Homo sapiens: one gene and its partners. The protein of the gene in region 1 interacts with the protein of each later gene in a pairwise test. Each region holds a gene or a part of one and is shown on either strand. Other genes may lie near its edges.

Region 1 (3,209 bases):
AAATGACCAAAGATGACCTGTCGTAAGCAACCTGGGTATCTTAAGATGCACTCCTTGGAGAGGGAATGTTCCTAAAAACATTTTCAGAGGGACGAACTGTATGAAATTCAGTAAAACATAAATCATGAGGAAAACTGATTACTCTCTTTTTGACATGAAATGAGAGTTTTAATGCATGGTTACGATTATTAACGTACTCCGCTGCAAGACGTTAATAAAGTTACTGTTTTGCAGGCTAGAATGTCTTGATGCTGTAATCAGAACACACTTTTTCCCCTTTCTTCCAGCTTCAAATGCAGATTCATAATTGGGCTGACTTCTAATAACTGCAATGTTTTCTGCCTTGGGCTTGCAGCAGAAGCCTGACAAAATAGTGTTTGTTTAGGCAATAATTTATTTATTTATTTATTGAGATGGAGTTTCATTCTTGTCGCCCAGGCTGGAGTGCAATGGCGTGATCTCGGCTCACTGCAACCTCTGTGTTCAGGCAATAATTTAGACTTTACCTTACTTGTGATTACTATAGCAATTACTATAGCCACAAGGCATAATTTTACTGTCTCATTTCAATTTTATGAATTTGAATGTTTTTACACTTTTCCTAATGAAGTCCACTATGAAGTTATGTCAAAAAAAAAAAAGAAAAAGAAAGATGCACACGTAAAAGAGAGGTGGTTGCAAGAGAAGAAAAGAACGGAGGAAAGTTAAACGCAAACCAGATAACTCTCAGCGTATTCTAAATGACCAAAAACAGAACTCTGTTGTCAAAGATTTTAAATGGAAAATTTTTCAATTTTTTTTTCTTTTTTGTACAGGTTTCTTCCTGAACGCGCCTCAGCGATTTTAAATCGTATGCAGAATATTCAATTTGAAGCAGTGGTTGGCCACAAAATCAAAATGAAATGAATAAATAAGCTCCAGCCAGAGATGTATGCATGATAATGATATGAATAGTTTCGAATCAATGCTGCAAAGCTTTATTTCACATTTTTTCAGTCCTGATAATATTAAAAACATTGGTTTGGCACTAGCAGCAGTCAAACGAACAAGATTAATTACCTGTCTTCCTGTTTCTCAAGAATATTTACGTAGTTTTTCATAGGTCTGTTTTTCCTTTCATGCCTCTTAAAAACTTCTGTGCTTACATAAACATACTTAAAAGGTTTTCTTTAAGATATTTTATTTTTCCATTTAAAGGTGGACAAAAGCTACCTCCCTAAAAGTAAATACAAAGAGAACTTATTTACACAGGGAAGGTTTAAGACTGTTCAAGTAGCATTCCAATCTGTAGCCATGCCACAGAATATCAACAAGAACACAGAATGAGTGCACAGCTAAGAGATCAAGTTTCAGCAGGCAGCTTTATCTCAACCTGGACATATTTTAAGATTCAGCATTTGAAAGATTTCCCTAGCCTCTTCCTTTTTCATTAGCCCAAAACGGTGCAACTCTATTCTGGACTTTATTACTTGATTCTGTCTTCTGTATAACTCTGAAGTCCACCAAAAGTGGACCCTCTATATTTCCTCCCTTTTTATAGTCTTATAAGATACATTATGAAAGGTGACCGACTCTATTTTAAATCTCAGAATTTTAAGTTCTAGCCCCATGATAACCTTTTTCTTTGTAATTTATGCTTTCATATATCCTTGGTCCCAGAGATGTTTAGACAATTTTAGGCTCAAAAATTAAAGCTAACACAGGAAAAGGAACTGTACTGGCTATTACATAAGAAACAATGGACCCAAGAGAAGAAAAGGAAGAAAGAAAGGTTTTTTGGTTTTTGTTTTGTTTTGTTTTGTTTTTTGTTTTTTTGAGATGGAGTCTCACTCTTTCGCCCAGGCTGGAGTGCAGTGGTATGATCTCAGCTCACTGCAAGCTCCACCTCCCGGGTTCACGCCATTCTCCTGCCTCAGCCTCCTGAGTAGCTGGGACTACAGGCGCCCGCCACCACACCCGGCTAATTTTTTGTATTTTTTGTAGAGACGGGGTTTCACCATGTTAGCCAAGATGGTCTCGATCTCCTGACCTCGTGATCCACCTGCCTCGGCCTCCCAAAGTGCTGGGATTACGGGTGTGAGCCACCGTGCCCAGCCTTTTTTTTTTTAATAGAAAAAATAATCCGACTCCCACTACATCAAGACTAATCTTGTTTTGTGTGTTTTTCACATGTATTATAGAATGCTTTTGCATGGACTATCCTCTTGTTTTTATTAAAAACAAATGATTTTTTTAAAAGTCACAAAAACAATTCACTAAAAATAAATATGTCATTGTGCTTTAAAAAAATAACCTCTTGTAGTTATAAAATAAAACGTTTGACTTCTAAACTCTGTCTCTATGAGTGTCCTTCAAGAACCAAGGATGTGGATGGTAACAGCTACATCTGGCAGTTATTAAATGAATCCAGGGGTTTTCTCAACTCTGGTTTCTTTGACAGCAGGAGTGCTGGTTTATCAACTGGAACTTACTGACCCCTTTCTATGTGTGAGATTAAGCACAGTGCTATTGTTTCTAATTTTTTTTCTTAGTCACCGGCAATAATTTTTTTCATAACATTCTTTTAATTTCTTGCCTTATAATCAAGAAATTTATGAGTAAAATGTATTATTTTTAAAGTATGGTTACAAAAATTCAAAAGAGAAACATGGAAAGTAAAAAATAGAAGCTTACCCCCAGCAATCCCATTTCCCAGAGGTCACACTGTCAATGCACAATCTTCCAGTCTTTTACTGATGCATGTTCATGACAAATACATTATATTCTTATTGCATGGGTCGTATCAGTAGTTTCATACCATACATTATGTTCTGTAACTTGCTCTTTTAGCTTACCAACTTATCACAAACAGCTGTTTGTTTCAGTATAGAGAATTCAACTTTTTTTCATGAGTACACAGTACTAAAATGGTACTCTAACCATTCCCTTTTGATAGGCACTTAGGATGTTTCCAGTATTTCTTAGTTCATCTATTTAAATATTAATTTAACAAATACTGAGTGCCCTCAAAGTTCTAGGCCCAGGGAAACATATATGAATAAGGCAAACTCCTTGTCTTAACAGAGCTCACATTCTAGTAGGTGGGACAAACAATAAAGGGACTGCAAATATGAGAGAGAGCATTTAAAGTAGTAGAGTCAGGGAAGAGCACGCTGAGAAAGAACATTTTGCGGACGAACTATTACCATACACAGGCAACTAAAAAATAT
Region 2 (5,975 bases), on another chromosome or scaffold:
AGCACTTCTAGGGAGAGGAGCAAACTCAAGTCTTTTATTGTGGGAAAGGGGGAAACACAGTGTTCCCCTGGCTCAGAAGGGAAAGGAGGGCCACGGGTGACACCTTGGGAAGCTTTCTTTTCTTCATAGAATGACTAACAGGAAATTATGAGGGGTACCCTCATTTTCTTTTTTTCTTTACTTTCTTTTTTTTTTTTTTTTTTTTTTTTTTTTGAGACGGAGTCTTGCTCTGTCACCTAGGCTGGAGTGCAGTGGCACGATGTCAGCTCACTGCAACCTCCGCCTCCCCGGTTCAAAAGATTCTCATGCCTCAGTCTCCCGAGTAGCTGGGATTACAGGCACGTGCCACAACACCTGGCTAATTTTTGTATTTTTAGTAGAGACGGGGTTTTACCATGTTGGCTAGGCTGGTCTGGAACTCCTGATCTCAAGTGATCCACCTACCTTGGCCTCCCAAAGTGCAGGGATTACAGGTGTGAGCCACTGCACCCCACCAGGGTACCCTCATTTTCTATGACCTCCAGAAATCGAGGGATTCAGTTTGTGAATCCTTCCTTCCTCTCCTAGTTCCTTGTGCAATGCAAAGCCTCTTTAGTGTTCACCTGCAGAGTCGTGCCCAGGCTGTAGGAGACTCTGGGTTTGGAGAATCATGGCACCCTCATCCTGTCATTTTCATCAGTTGTGTCTTCAATCCTTTCTTCACCCCTCCACACTCAAACCTCTCTCCTTCTAGAAGCAGATTTTTCCTTTTCCTTCCTCTTCTCCTCCCTTACTCCCCTACTTTTCCCAGTCCCCCAAACATACCAGGCTCAGAGCTGGATTCATTCAGCATTTATTGTAGCAAAGAGTGGGTAGGGACAGGAGCTCTAGGACTGGCCAGTGGGTGTTCTAGAGGCCAGCTGGGGTTGGAAGACAATGGTCTGGACACTTCACTGGGTGGCAGGCTGTGTTCCAAGTTCCACGAAATAGCTCAAGAAGTTAACCAGTTCCGTTCCAGCCTTCTTGATCAGGGGTGTCAGCTGCTCCTTTGACTTTTCAAAGTAAGACCTGGATAGGTGAGGGGATTAGAGTTTAATCTGAGGGACCCTAGGCACTGGCAGGGGCCTTGGTGGTGGTGGGAGGTCAGAGCAGACTGACTCAGGTCCCCAAACTCTAGTGCCTGGTCCATCGCATGGCAAAGCCCCTAGGTAGGAATAGAGTCAAGACCTTTGCTAGGTAGAGGGACAGACTCTAGAGACTGAAATTCAAGGCCCAGTTCTTGCTGTTCCTCTCTATCTAAGAGACGTGTGGGATCTTTGGGTGATGAAATACTTTTTCTCTGCAATTTAAGCCTAATCTGCCCTAATCCCCACCCCTGGGTTCAGACTTCTGTGGGACCTCTCATCTTCCCTTCTTTCTCTCCACAGTTCCACAGCCCCTGAACCCCTTGCCCTGAGACTTACTTGGCCTCGGCCTGAAGCTCTGGGCTCTTGACCTTCTCCATCAGGTCCTTGCCATAGTCAGTCACGGTCTGGAAGTACTGAGAAACCAGGCTCTCCACACATGGCTCCTTTGCCTGTCTCCGAACCAAAGCTCCTGCCCACACACACACACACACACACACACACACACACACACACTCTTTTCAGCTGGGTCCACAGCAGTGAATCCTGGCCTCCTGCCATACCTCTGCCAGTACCCACCCCAGCTCTCTGCCCCCTCCCCAAAAAGGTATCCAGCCAGATCTTTGGATGGGCTTTCTGGGCTTTAGAGAGGGAATGATCTTCCTTTTGAGCCCTTTGGTTGCCAGACCTGGATATAAGAGCACAGGCAGATAGGTAGCTATAACCACCAGCACATTCTCCCTTTTGGCCCCCTCTCCATATCACACCCACCTTCAAGGCTGCAGATGGTGAGGAGTAGCACAGTTGCTGCGAGCAGCTTCATGTTGGTAACAGTGGGGAGGGCGGCCTAGGAAGAGGGTGGTGGGGGTTTGGGGGACACTGAAGCCAAATGGGCTTCAGCTCCTCCCCAGGGATCTCCCTACCTGCTGCCCATTCCAACCTGGCTCTCTCCCTCTCCACAACTGAAGCCCAGGCCTCTTTGGATGCTGCTCACACATCTTGCCTCCTTATCTTACCTAGCCAGCGTCTCTGTCCTTGGTGTCTGTGCCTGCCCTGGCTGGAGAGGAAGGGGCTATATACCTGTCTGTTTACCCACCCCCTGTCAGGTGACAGGGACTATGGATGGGCCCAGTGGGGCAGGGATTATGTGAGGATAAACAAGTTGGAGAAATGGGGGAGGAGAGGACAAGCACATGGAAGACTCATGGTGATGGGGTGAGAGGCAGGGGGTACAGCTCTTAGTGGAGGCTAAGGGGGTACACTTCAGGTATATTTGAGGTTCATTCTTTTGAGATCTGAGGTCCTTGGACTTGAGTGCAACAGGAAGCAGGATTCCAAGTTATTTCTCTGGAAAGCTCTGACATATCAACCCATGGAATACCATCAACCCATCATACCATGGAAAGCTCATGGTGTCTTTATTCCATTATGGGTAGATCTCATCTCTCAACCTTATCCCACTTTACTGCAACTTGGCAGAGAGATATTGGGGAGCAGAAGAAAGGAGAAAGGAATTGAAATCAGGGACAGGGTTGAGGGCTATGGGGGTTAGGGGAATGAGGGTCGGGTAAGAGGGCAAGTGTAAATGATCTTGTCCGTTTTTGAGTTAATGTGTAATGAGACGGGGAGAAAACAGGAGAGCCCAGAATGACCTGGATGCTGATCACTGAACATACCCTACCCCCAGTAAAACAAATTCAGAAAACAGCTTCCGCCCGTCCCCTCCCAATGGAGGGCTCTGGCAGGAAAAGAGGTGAATAAGAGGCTTCTACCAGGGTAAAGGTTGAAGGCACCTGGTCATTTGATCACCTTATCAGTTCTAGGCAGTGATTAGCCAATATTGAGTCAGCAGGGGCAATAGCCCTGGCCCTTGTCTCACTCCTGTTGGGGGTGGGGGAGGGGGAGAGGTACATTCCCAGGTTCAAAGCATTTGGGTGAAATCAGTTAAATAGATATCAGAAGCTTTTGTATCTTTCACCCTTTTGCCCCCCAAGCATACTCGCTGAGTATGTGGAACATTCCTGAGGGTGACAGTGGAGGCGCAAAGCTGATGAGGGAGGTAGTGACCAGAGACCAAGAAATCTTTGTTTTTTAACTTTTGTTTTAAATTCAGAAGTATATGTGCAGGTTTTTTTGTTTGTTTTCCTGAGACGGAGTTTTGCTCTTGTTGCTCAGGCTGGAGCGTAATGGCATGATCTCGGCTCACTGCAACCTCCACCTCCCGGGTTCAAGGATTCTCCTGCCTCAGCATCCCAAGTAGCTGGGATTACAGACATGCGCCACCACGCCCGGGTAATTTTGTACTTTTAGTAGAGACGGGGTTTCCCCATGTTGGTCAGGCTGGTCTTGAACTCCCGACCTCAGGTGATCTGCCCGCCTCGGCCTCCCAAAGTGCTAGGATTACAGGCATCAGCCACCGCCCCTGGCCTATATATGCAAGTTTGTTACACACGTAAACTTGTGTCATGGGGATTTGTTGTACAGATTATTTCATCACCCAGGTATTAAGCCTAATATCCATTAGTTATTTTTCCTGATCTTCTCCCTCCTCCCACCCTTCACCCTCCAAGACCAAGAACTCTTACTCCATTTTCAATTATTCCCCTGTGGAGCGCTTAGTGCTTGAGGTCAGCCCTTTGGCTTGTCCCTGGTCCTGGGATGGAGTGCCTTTGGGGGCCAGGCTCCATATTCCTAGATTTTATTTGCCAACTCTGCCTTGGGACTCAGGGAAGGAAGGGTTAAATACAGAAAGCAGCTGTTTCAGCGAATAGTTCTGCTAGAACTTACTCCTCTGCGCCAAACTCTCACACCCGTTTCCATTCCACCAAGTGGTCAAGAGCGGGGACTTCGAGAGATGTAGACCTCCAGAAGAGAAGGGTGGGTCCCTGTTCTAGGGAGTGCTGCGCTTAATGAGTAGTACTCATTTGGAGGTGTGCTGTGGAGGGCTGTGAGGAGGATTTCCCATGGGTTCTTTGGAGAGAAGGGAGCGATAGAAATGAACCAGGGTTCCAAAGAAGTCTTCATAATCGTTCTTTCTGCCACCCTTCACACTATGCCAGTCTACAAGCTGTAGTTCCACTTTTCTCATGGATGAAACTACATGGGTGGAAGGAGCTTCAGTGGCCCAAGCTACAAGATGCTCCCTCTAGTGTCTTGTACGCTCACAAGTTTTTTTCCGACCTTGGAGAGGCCTAGTGATCTAAAGCCTTCCACTTAAGTCTAAGGGGCCACCAATCAAGTCCTGCCCGCCTCTGCAGCTCCAGGGTTGAAGCTCTTGGGCCGTCAGACCTGCCACTCATTTTCTTCCTCCCTTCCCATTGGCCCATGGTAAATAGCGAGGCTTTTTTTTTTTTTTTTTTTTTTCATTGATTGGGCGGGGCCCAATCAGGGTTGGGTTGGGTCTTTGACAGCTTTCTTTGCCAGATTCAAAGATGGCGCTTACGGCCACGCTAAGAATGCAGCGTGAAGCTGCAGTTCTGCCATCACTCAAGATGGCTGCCCCCATCAAGATGACCGGGGTGTGCCGGGGGGAAAGGGGCAGCATGATGGTCTGAGATGGTAAGGGATACTGCACCATTGCGGGCCTGGTCTTGGGGCCTGGGAATGAAGAATAGAGAGGCTAGGGAGCTAGGTGAAGTCTGTGGTGGGGGCTAGGATCAGAGAAAGGGAGAGAGGACAAGGGTGACAAGTGGGGGTGAGAGATCAAAGATGGGGCGGGAGTGTGCCTAGGGTTGTCTCTCCATGAGTGCTCTCCTTCCCTACTCTTCCTGTTCCAGGTGTAGCGTCGGACCATGTGGAAGTTTCTGAGGCTGGGGAGCCGGATAATGGGGGGTGGGGCCCGTTGGGGGGTAAAGGGGCAATAGCGTCCTTTCACAGGCTAACCTCGGCTCTTCCCAGTCCTCTGGACTAAAATGGGGAACACATTGGGCCTGGCACCAATGGGGACTTTGCCCCGCCGGAGCCCCCGCCGAGAGGAACCCCTGCCCAACCCTGGGAGCTTCGATGAGCTGCACCGTCTATGCAAAGGTGAGAACTTGGCACTTGGGTGTCTCAGGATGAAGGGGCAGAGGAGTGGAGGGTCTTGAATGCCGGATGTCCGGCGATGGGAGCAGGAAAGGGGAGATCATAGCTGGGTCATGCAGCCTCAGGGAGGATCAGGTGCCCAAATGAAGTGGAGCATTTCATTGCAGGACTTGAAAGGAGGTTAATTCCTCCAAAGTGTTCCCTATGGGATTGAAAGGGGAGACTATCTTTTGGGGTAGGGGTTCTTTGTCTGTGCTTATTCCTTCCCTTCCCCTACCCCCTTCAGATGTATTCCCAGCACAGATGGAGGGAGTGAAGCTCGTTGTCAACAAGGTTCTGAGCAGCCATTTCCAGGTGCTCCCACTTCTCTGGCCCCTCCTTACTATTCCCCCTTTCCTGTCCCTGGATCATCTTCTCCTTTCCTTTGTACTCCAGCCCTAGCCAGTCTATGTGGGACAAATGAGGGAGGATGTGGGGTTCTCTTTACCTCCGTGCCTGTGGGACTTGTTGCTTTTAATCCGATGACCTTCTCTGTATATGTTGGAATATTTAGGATTCTTGAGAGGCCCTCTGGATGGGGAAAAGACTAAGGGTGGGATGAGGGATTGAAGTGGAGCAGGAATGCGCTTTTCTCCACTGAATCCTCTTTTCCTCAGGTGGCGCACACTATACACATGAGTGCCCTGGGCTTGCCGGGATATCACCTCCATGCGGCCTATGCAGGGGATTGGCAGCTCAGTCCCACTGAGGTGAGGGCTCCACACACCTGGGTCATCTCCCTAAAAACCAATCTGGGACCCAGGTCTGGAGGAAGAGGAATTGTGTGTGTTATGGGGAGGAATGGGCCGT
Region 3 (7,316 bases), on another chromosome or scaffold:
TGTCACAAAGGAGAACGCTTAGGCTGTAGGAAAATTGAGTGTCTGCCCTCTCAGATGTATCGATCATACAAACACAAATTCTCCTTACAGTCCCATCTATCTCTTCTCATTAGGACAAGTGCTTCCCGTGTCCAGATCAAGGATGCCCACAGATGGGTCACTATGCTGATAAATTTGCTGGCAGGACAAGTGAAGAGCAGCAGAAATTCTTCTTGAACACAGGAGAGGCTAGCAATTTCGCTCGTAAGTTGCACTTTGACTACCTGCCCATGTAAAGAAAGTATATAGTTTCTGTTACAAATGAGGGGCTTGCTTTCAACCTGAAATATTTGTGGGTACATTTTAATTATCTTAGAAATGGACACATTTACCGAAACTATTGCAGTTACAAGTAAACTGAGGATTTAGACAGAGTGTGCATTTCTTCCGTTCTATTTCTGCGGCATGAAATGAGAGCAAGCAACTAGTATAATTAATGGGATGAGGCCAGTTTGCACATCCTTGTGACCAGCTACCCTGAATTTTTACCACTCCACAGTTCATTGTTTCTTTCCTTTTTAAGGCCGCATCAGACACACCTGTTCTCTTCATTCAGCAAAGACGTAATTGGTACCAGCTCTTTGCTGGGCTATGTCCCTTAAGAAGCCCAACTCCATTCTCTGCTTTCCCCTCTGTCTGTGCATCCCTGATGCCCAGGGGCTGCCTCGCTGGTGGAGTGCAGGCAGGAATCAGGGGGAAGGATGATTTCTCTCCAAAACCTGCTGAATGGACTAAGACACAGGGTAGAGACTGGGCATGTTTGGGCCACTTTGTACCAACCTGCCCCATGACACTTCCATAGGAGGTGACCCAGTAAAGACAGAGGTTACATATTCATATAAATGTATAACACATCTTACATAGTTTTTAAAGTCAGATTTATTGAGGTATAATTTATATTTGGCAAAATGCACGCTGTTTAGCATACACTTGTATGAGTTTGGACAAATGAATAGTTGTGTAAACACCTCCAAATCAAGATACAGAACACTTCTATCACCATATATATCACTCTGTAATTTTTTTTTTTTTTTTTGAGACGGAGTCTCGCTGTGTCGCCCAGGCTGGAGTGCAGAGGCGCAATCTTGGCTCACTACAACCTCCCCCTCCCGGGTTCACGCCATTCTCCTGCCTCAGCCTCCCGAGTAGCTGGGACTACAGGCGCCCGCCACCATGCCAGGCTAATTTTTTTTTTACATTTTTAGTAGAGACGGGGTTTCACCATGTTAGCCAGGATGGTCTCGATCTCCTGACCTTGTGATCCGCCTGCCTCGGCCTCCCAAAGTGCCGGGATTACAGGCGTGAGCCACCGCACCCGGCCCACTCTGTGTATTTTTTTTGTAAGAAGACATTGATTAATCAATCCTTCCACTGATGTTGTGATGCATGAAATACTTGCCAATATTTCAACAACAAATTAAACACTCAAAAACCAGGTATTCATTCCTCAATCAACATTTATTTATGGGCCACAGACTATGCTAGACACTGAGGATGCAGGGACGAACAAGAGACTCCTCTCATGAAATTAATAATCCAGCCAAAGACAGAAACTGGGCAAGCAACTACAAGCGTGTTGGGCTTGGTGGCTGTTGCCATGACATTATGGGACAGAGAACCTGGCCCTGACCAGAAGGAGGGTCAGGGTCAAGGTCTCTGAAGACACGAAAGATGAATAGGAGTTAGGCAAGAATCATGTCTGTGTATATTAATGTACATCTGTGCACATGTGTGGGTGTATGAATGCATGTGTGAGTGTGTTTGTGTATGTACCTTTGTGTGTATGCATGTGTTTATATACGTATGTATATGAGTCTGTATGTTTATGTATATGTATGTGCATGTGTATGTATATTTGTATGTGGGTGTCTATGTATGTGCGTGGTTAAATGTGTGTAGGTTTGTGTGTGTGTGCACATACACATGCATGTTTGTGTAGATGTATGTGTGTGTGCACATGCACATGTTGTGTATATGTATTTGTGTATGTGCACGCACATGCATGTTTGTGTATATGTATTGTGTGTGCACATGCATATGTTTGTGTATATGTATTTGTGTGTGTGCACGCACATGCATATGTTTGTGTATATGTATTTGTATTTGTGTGCGTGTGCATGCAGGCCCTGGGACAGCATTTCAGGTAGAAGCCTAAGTGACAGCTGCTCGTGCACCTGCTCTGTGCTAGAGACTGCCCAGGGCCCTGGGGAGCAGAGAGGAAACACAGTCCCCGCCCTCGAGGTGCTTGCCAGGCTGCACTCCCGAGCTACCTTCCCAAATGTGGAGACAAGCCCCTATTCCCTCTCTCTTCACCTTACCTTACTGTACTGCCATTCTGGGGCAGAGCTGGCTAACAGAACTTTCTGCAATGAGGGGCATATTCTGTGTAGCCATTAGCCTCATGTGGCAACTTAACATTTGCAACACAGCGAATGAGTTTGAGAAACTAAATTTTTAATTGTATTTAATTTGGATTTAAATGTAAGCAGCCACATGTGGCTGGTGACCTCCTCCCTGGGCAATGCAGTTCTAGAGGGGGATACTGCTAAATACATACTTCTCCATAAGGCCTTGTTTGATTTGTAGATTAACAAATAGAATTTCTTATACTTTGGCTGGGTGTGGTGGCTCACGCCTGTATTCCCATCACTTTGGGAGGCGGACACGGGCGGATCACTTGAGGTCAGGAGTTGGAGACCAGCTTGACCAACATGGCGAAACTCTGTCTCTACTAAAAATACAAAAATTAGCCAGGCGTGATGGTGTGTGCCTGTAGTCCCAGCTACTAGGGAGGTTGAGGCAGAAGAATTACTTGAACCTGGGAGGCAGAGGTGGCAGTGAGCCAAGATTGCACCACTACACTCCAGCCTGGGTGACAGAGTGAGACCCCATCTCAAAAAATAATAATAATAATTTTTTAGAAAAGAATTTCTTATGCTTTGTTGCCTCAGAGTAAGAGAAGGAGACAAGTCTGGGATGTAGGCTACTTATTTTGTGTGTGAATAAATTGAACTCTTCCATCTCCTGTGCAGGCTGGAGATATGGGGTTTCCATCACACTGTCTGGAAGAACAGCCACTGGTCAGATCAAAGTTGCTTTGTTTGGAAATAAGGGAAACACTCACCAGTACAGTATCTTCAGGTAATTTCCTATTTTAACACTACGTCTCATTTGATGATATACACAGCCTTCAAACCACACACTTAATTTGAACACTTATCATCTCTTTATATGTCACTGGTTTTTAATTATAGTCATGCAACATGTAACAACATTTTAGTTGATGGACCACATACACAACAGTTGCTTTATAAGCTTGTAATACCATATTTTTACTGTACTTTTTCTATGTTTGGGTGTTTAGATACACAAATACTTACCATTGTGTTCCAGTTGTCTACAGAACTCAATACAGTAACATGTAGTACAGGTTTGTAACCTAGGAGCAATAGGCTGTACCATACAGCCTAGGTATGTAGTAGGCTGTGCCATCTACGTTTGTGTGAGTACATGCTATGATGTCCACACAATGATTAAATTACCTAAGGACACATTTCTCAGAACATATCTCCATTGTTAAGCAACGCAGGACTATATAACTTTATGTACTGATGTTAATTGCAGACTTCTGCTAATAATTTTTCTTTTCTGTTATAAACCTAGGCATTTCGTCCTTTCTCTCTCTTTTTTTTTTTTTTTTTTTTTTTTGAGAAAGAGTCTTTGCTCTGTCACCCAGGCTGGAGTGCAGTGGCACGATCTTGGCTCATTGCAACCTCCGCCTCCCGGGTTCAAGAAATTCTCGTGCCTCAGCCTCCCAAGTAGCTGAGATTACAGGCATGTGCCACCACACCTGGCTGATTTTTGTATTTTTAGTAGAGATGGGGGGCGTTTTGCCATGTTGGCCAGGCTGGTCTCGAACTTCTGACCTCAAGTGATCCACCCATCTCGGCCTCTCAAAGTGCTGGGATTACAGACGTGAGCCACCATGCCCGGCCTCTTTCTCTTAATAGATGTTTTTTTAAACATAAATCTAATATTACTTCAGATATGCTGTTTTCTGATTAGTGCAATAACACATGCTTATTGTGCCATACTATGTGGCCAATTTGTTACTGTACAAATAATTCTTCCAAAACATATAAAATGATATGCAGGAATTCTATTTTATTTTCTATTAGAAAGCTTTAAGGAAAAATTAACTTGAGTTTTAAAAACCATAGTTTGAGGTGCTAGCATATAGCTGGCTTTTCCATTTCTCCATCCTTTATTTGGAAATTAATTCGGAAAAATAATCCTGTTAATCTAGAAGAGAAAACAGCAGCCTGGCATTGTATGGTAATTAGAACTCATTTCCGTGAACAGGGATGTTTATGTTTCTCTATTTCAAGGGGGATTCTCAAACCAGGCTCAACCCATTCCTATGAGTTTGATGCAAAGCTGGATGTTGGAACAATTGAGAAAGTCAAGTTTCTTTGGAATAACAATGTGATAAATCCAACCCTCCCCAAAGTGGGTGCCACCAAGATCACTGTGCAAAAGGGAGAAGAGAAGACAGTGTATGTATCTTTGCTGGCTGGTGCCTAAAAATGTTTGCAGAGATTCATGTTATAATGAAAACCCACCCTAGAAAGTTACGTGTAGTTAAGCAAGAAAAGCCAAGAAAATTTACCCATCTGTGGCCCCTTCTCCCCAAACAAGCAACTGACAAACAGCATAAAATGTTTCTGTTGGGTGCACCTTATTGGGTGTTCTCAGCACTGCCTGTGGGAATACAGAAGATAAGGCTGCACTTTCAAGGTAAAATGAGAAAATACAAGAAAGAGAACAAGAAATCCTTTCTGAAGGGTACAAGTTTATAAGTATGGGCTAGTGAATAGCTATACTTGAAAGAGGAGAAGACCAATTACATTTCAGGATAATAAAACGGAAAATAAATCGGTTTTAGGAAAAGATCGAAAATTTTACATAGGACAAGAATGCACTAGGATTGCAATACTTGTGAGATCCTGACCTGTGGTCTCCCTGGCTTTGGGCCTGAATAAGCACAGGGCCGTGGGTAGGAAAAAGGGACGGCTGGAGGAAAGTTGGAGTGGTGACCTGAGAGGGCAGAGCGACTGTCTCTCAAACCTCAGACCCCAAGTCTGGCTAGTAGAACATGTGGCTTTGTGGGAAGGAGATCCTGGGCTCTCAGCCACCGATGTTCTTGAAGTTTGGGGTTAGGTGGAGTCACCGAGTTCAGGTCCCAGAGATTGTCACTCCCCCAGGTGGGGAGGGTGGGGTGGCAGAGTAGAATGGGGGCTGACTCCACATCTGGGTCTCCTCGAACTGGATGACTTAGTGAGGTTCTCCTTATCCCCACGAGGCAAGGAGAACAAAGAGGTTGGCCCTGCCAGGTGGTGGGTGGAACCAGGAGGCCTCATAAGCTAGAGCATAGTACAGAGGAGGCTGGGCCGGGCTGGTCGGGAGCCCTGTGCAAGCTGGAGGTGCAACCAAATCCTTTCCTCCCTGACCCCATCAGAGGATACTCAGCCTCTAAATTCAGCTCCCCAAGGCCCCATTAGCAAGCATCCCATGGCCTGGATCCTGGGACTGTGTGGTTAAAAACATGTCAGGTGGTGGCATCATTGGAATCTTAAAAATTAGAGGTGTTCCCAGGAGATGACTTGCTCACAGGTAAGGCATACAAGTCCAAATCAGCCAGGGCATTGCATCTTCCAGGTTTTCTGAGGAAAGGCTGAGGCTTTCTGAACTTTCTGCAAATGGAACAGAACATACTTAAGGCTGCACCTGAGGTCCTGTGCCCATCAGCTGTCACCTGCATTCCAGTGGCTGAGTGCAGCTCCCCTCGCTGTCTGCTCCAGAAAGACTCTTTCTTAAGAGCAGCTGGATATAAGACATCAGGTTTTCTAAACAGAGGAAAGTCAAAACAGCTTCAAATCTCTCAAACTAGTTTGGGAAGTAAAAACACTGAATTAGTTGAATTACTCAAACATTTTCCTGTTATGAAAATGGCCAGTAACATTTAATAATAATAATAATAATAATAATAATGAAGAAGCTAAAGAAAATCAAGATTTTGGTCCAAGCTCTTCTCAGAATCCCCTCATATTTTTTAGTAACCTCATTGGGGTTTCAATTCCTACTAAGGAATCTGCCGACTAGGATTCCCTCCAATGACACAGTATCCAAAGAGAAAGGCAGCCCTCCCCCTCTTTATTTCTCCGTCCCCCTCTCTTTATTAAGTACCTTTGGTAAATGTACCCTTGCAAATGACTTTATTCAGTACCTATTGTATGGCCTGGCAAACAGTAAGGGATGCAAACACTGAGCCTACACTCAAGGAGCTTACAGTTCAGCTGTTGAGAAAAATCAGACTTATGGTTCACAGGGAAGGTCAAAAGACCAAATAAAGAACTCCCAGGAGAGGCTCAGAAAGACAGTGGCCAAGGAGGAAAGCAGAGGGCCGCGGGGAGGCTGTGATGGAAGGAAGGGCAGCTCTCAGGATGAGGCAGGGAGTAGGAGGGAGGAAGGGCACAGGGGCAGGGCAACAGGTCCAAGTGCATGAGGGGCGACAGGGCCCAAGTGCAGGGAATATGATCGGAGGCCTCCGATGCCAAGTTAGGGCTTCTTGGCAGAAAAAATGAAACACAGAAGAGAAAGTGGGAAGGGGCCAAGGAACACCAGTGAGGAAATGGGGCAAAGCTTCCGAGCTCACAGGTGGTGAGGCCTGAGAGAAGTCCGTGGTTCTTGAACAACCACAAAAATAACTGCTTACATCTGCATTGTTTTTTGTTAATTGTAAGACTTTTTACATTTACCATCATGGGATGTTACGTTCTTATCATGGAATTCTCAACAGTCGTGGGAGAATGACTGAGATGGAATCTCGCTCTGTTGCCCAGGCTAGAGTACAGTGGCATGATCTCAGCTCCACTGCAACCTCCACCTCCTGGGTTCAAGAGATTCTTGTGCCTCAGCCTCCCAAGTAGCTGGGATTACAGGCATGCACCACCACGCCCGGCTAATTTTTGTATTTTTAGTAGAGACAGGGTCTCACCATGTTGGCCAGGCTGGTCTCAAACTCCCGGCCTCAAGTGATCCACCTGCCTCGACCTCCCAAAAGTGTGGGGATTACAGGCATGAGCCACCACACCAGGCCTTGCCTTGCTCTTTTGATACTGTGTCATTGGAGGGAATCCTAGTGGGCAGGTTGTTTAGTAGGAATTAATACCCCAATAAGGTTATTAAAAAATATGAGGGGATTCTGAGAAAAGCTT

Evidence for each region. The genes of interacting proteins can lie anywhere in the genome.
Region 2: the proteins of HSD17B13 (region 1) and APOA2 interact in binary tests that used the Homo sapiens proteins (3 or more experiments, as listed by UniProt).
Region 3: the proteins of HSD17B13 (region 1) and PNLIPRP1 interact in binary tests that used the Homo sapiens proteins (3 or more experiments, as listed by UniProt).

What each region holds. Positions count from the first base shown.
Region 1 is NC_000004.12:87,302,915-87,306,123, reverse strand, and holds the end of HSD17B13 (17-beta-hydroxysteroid dehydrogenase 13 isoform A precursor), read left to right. Parts: intron 1-815; coding exon 816-906; 3' UTR 907-2,330; downstream 2,331-3,209. UniProt on the Homo sapiens protein: Plays a pivotal role in hepatic lipid metabolism. In vitro, it catalyzes the oxidation of a variety of lipid substrates, including 17beta-estradiol, retinol, retinal, and leukotriene B4.
Region 2 is NC_000001.11:161,221,476-161,227,450, forward strand, and holds APOA2 (apolipoprotein A-II preproprotein), read right to left. Parts: upstream 2,154-5,975; 5' UTR 2,120-2,153; intron 1,951-2,119; 5' UTR 1,927-1,950; coding exon 1,875-1,926; intron 1,576-1,874; coding exon 1,443-1,575; intron 1,048-1,442; coding exon 930-1,047; 3' UTR 817-929; downstream 1-816. Other genes in the region: TOMM40L (mitochondrial import receptor subunit TOM40B), read left to right, coding at 5,015-5,129, 5,413-5,480, 5,783-5,875. UniProt on the Homo sapiens protein: May stabilize HDL (high density lipoprotein) structure by its association with lipids, and affect the HDL metabolism.
Region 3 is NC_000010.11:116,600,959-116,608,274, forward strand, and holds part of PNLIPRP1 (inactive pancreatic lipase-related protein 1 precursor), read left to right. Parts: intron 1-113; coding exon 114-243; intron 244-3,071; coding exon 3,072-3,180; intron 3,181-4,183; exon of another isoform or gene 4,184-4,427; coding exon 4,428-4,595; exon of another isoform or gene 4,596-5,945; intron 5,946-7,316. UniProt on the Homo sapiens protein: May function as inhibitor of dietary triglyceride digestion. Lacks detectable lipase activity towards triglycerides, diglycerides, phosphatidylcholine, galactolipids or cholesterol esters (in vitro).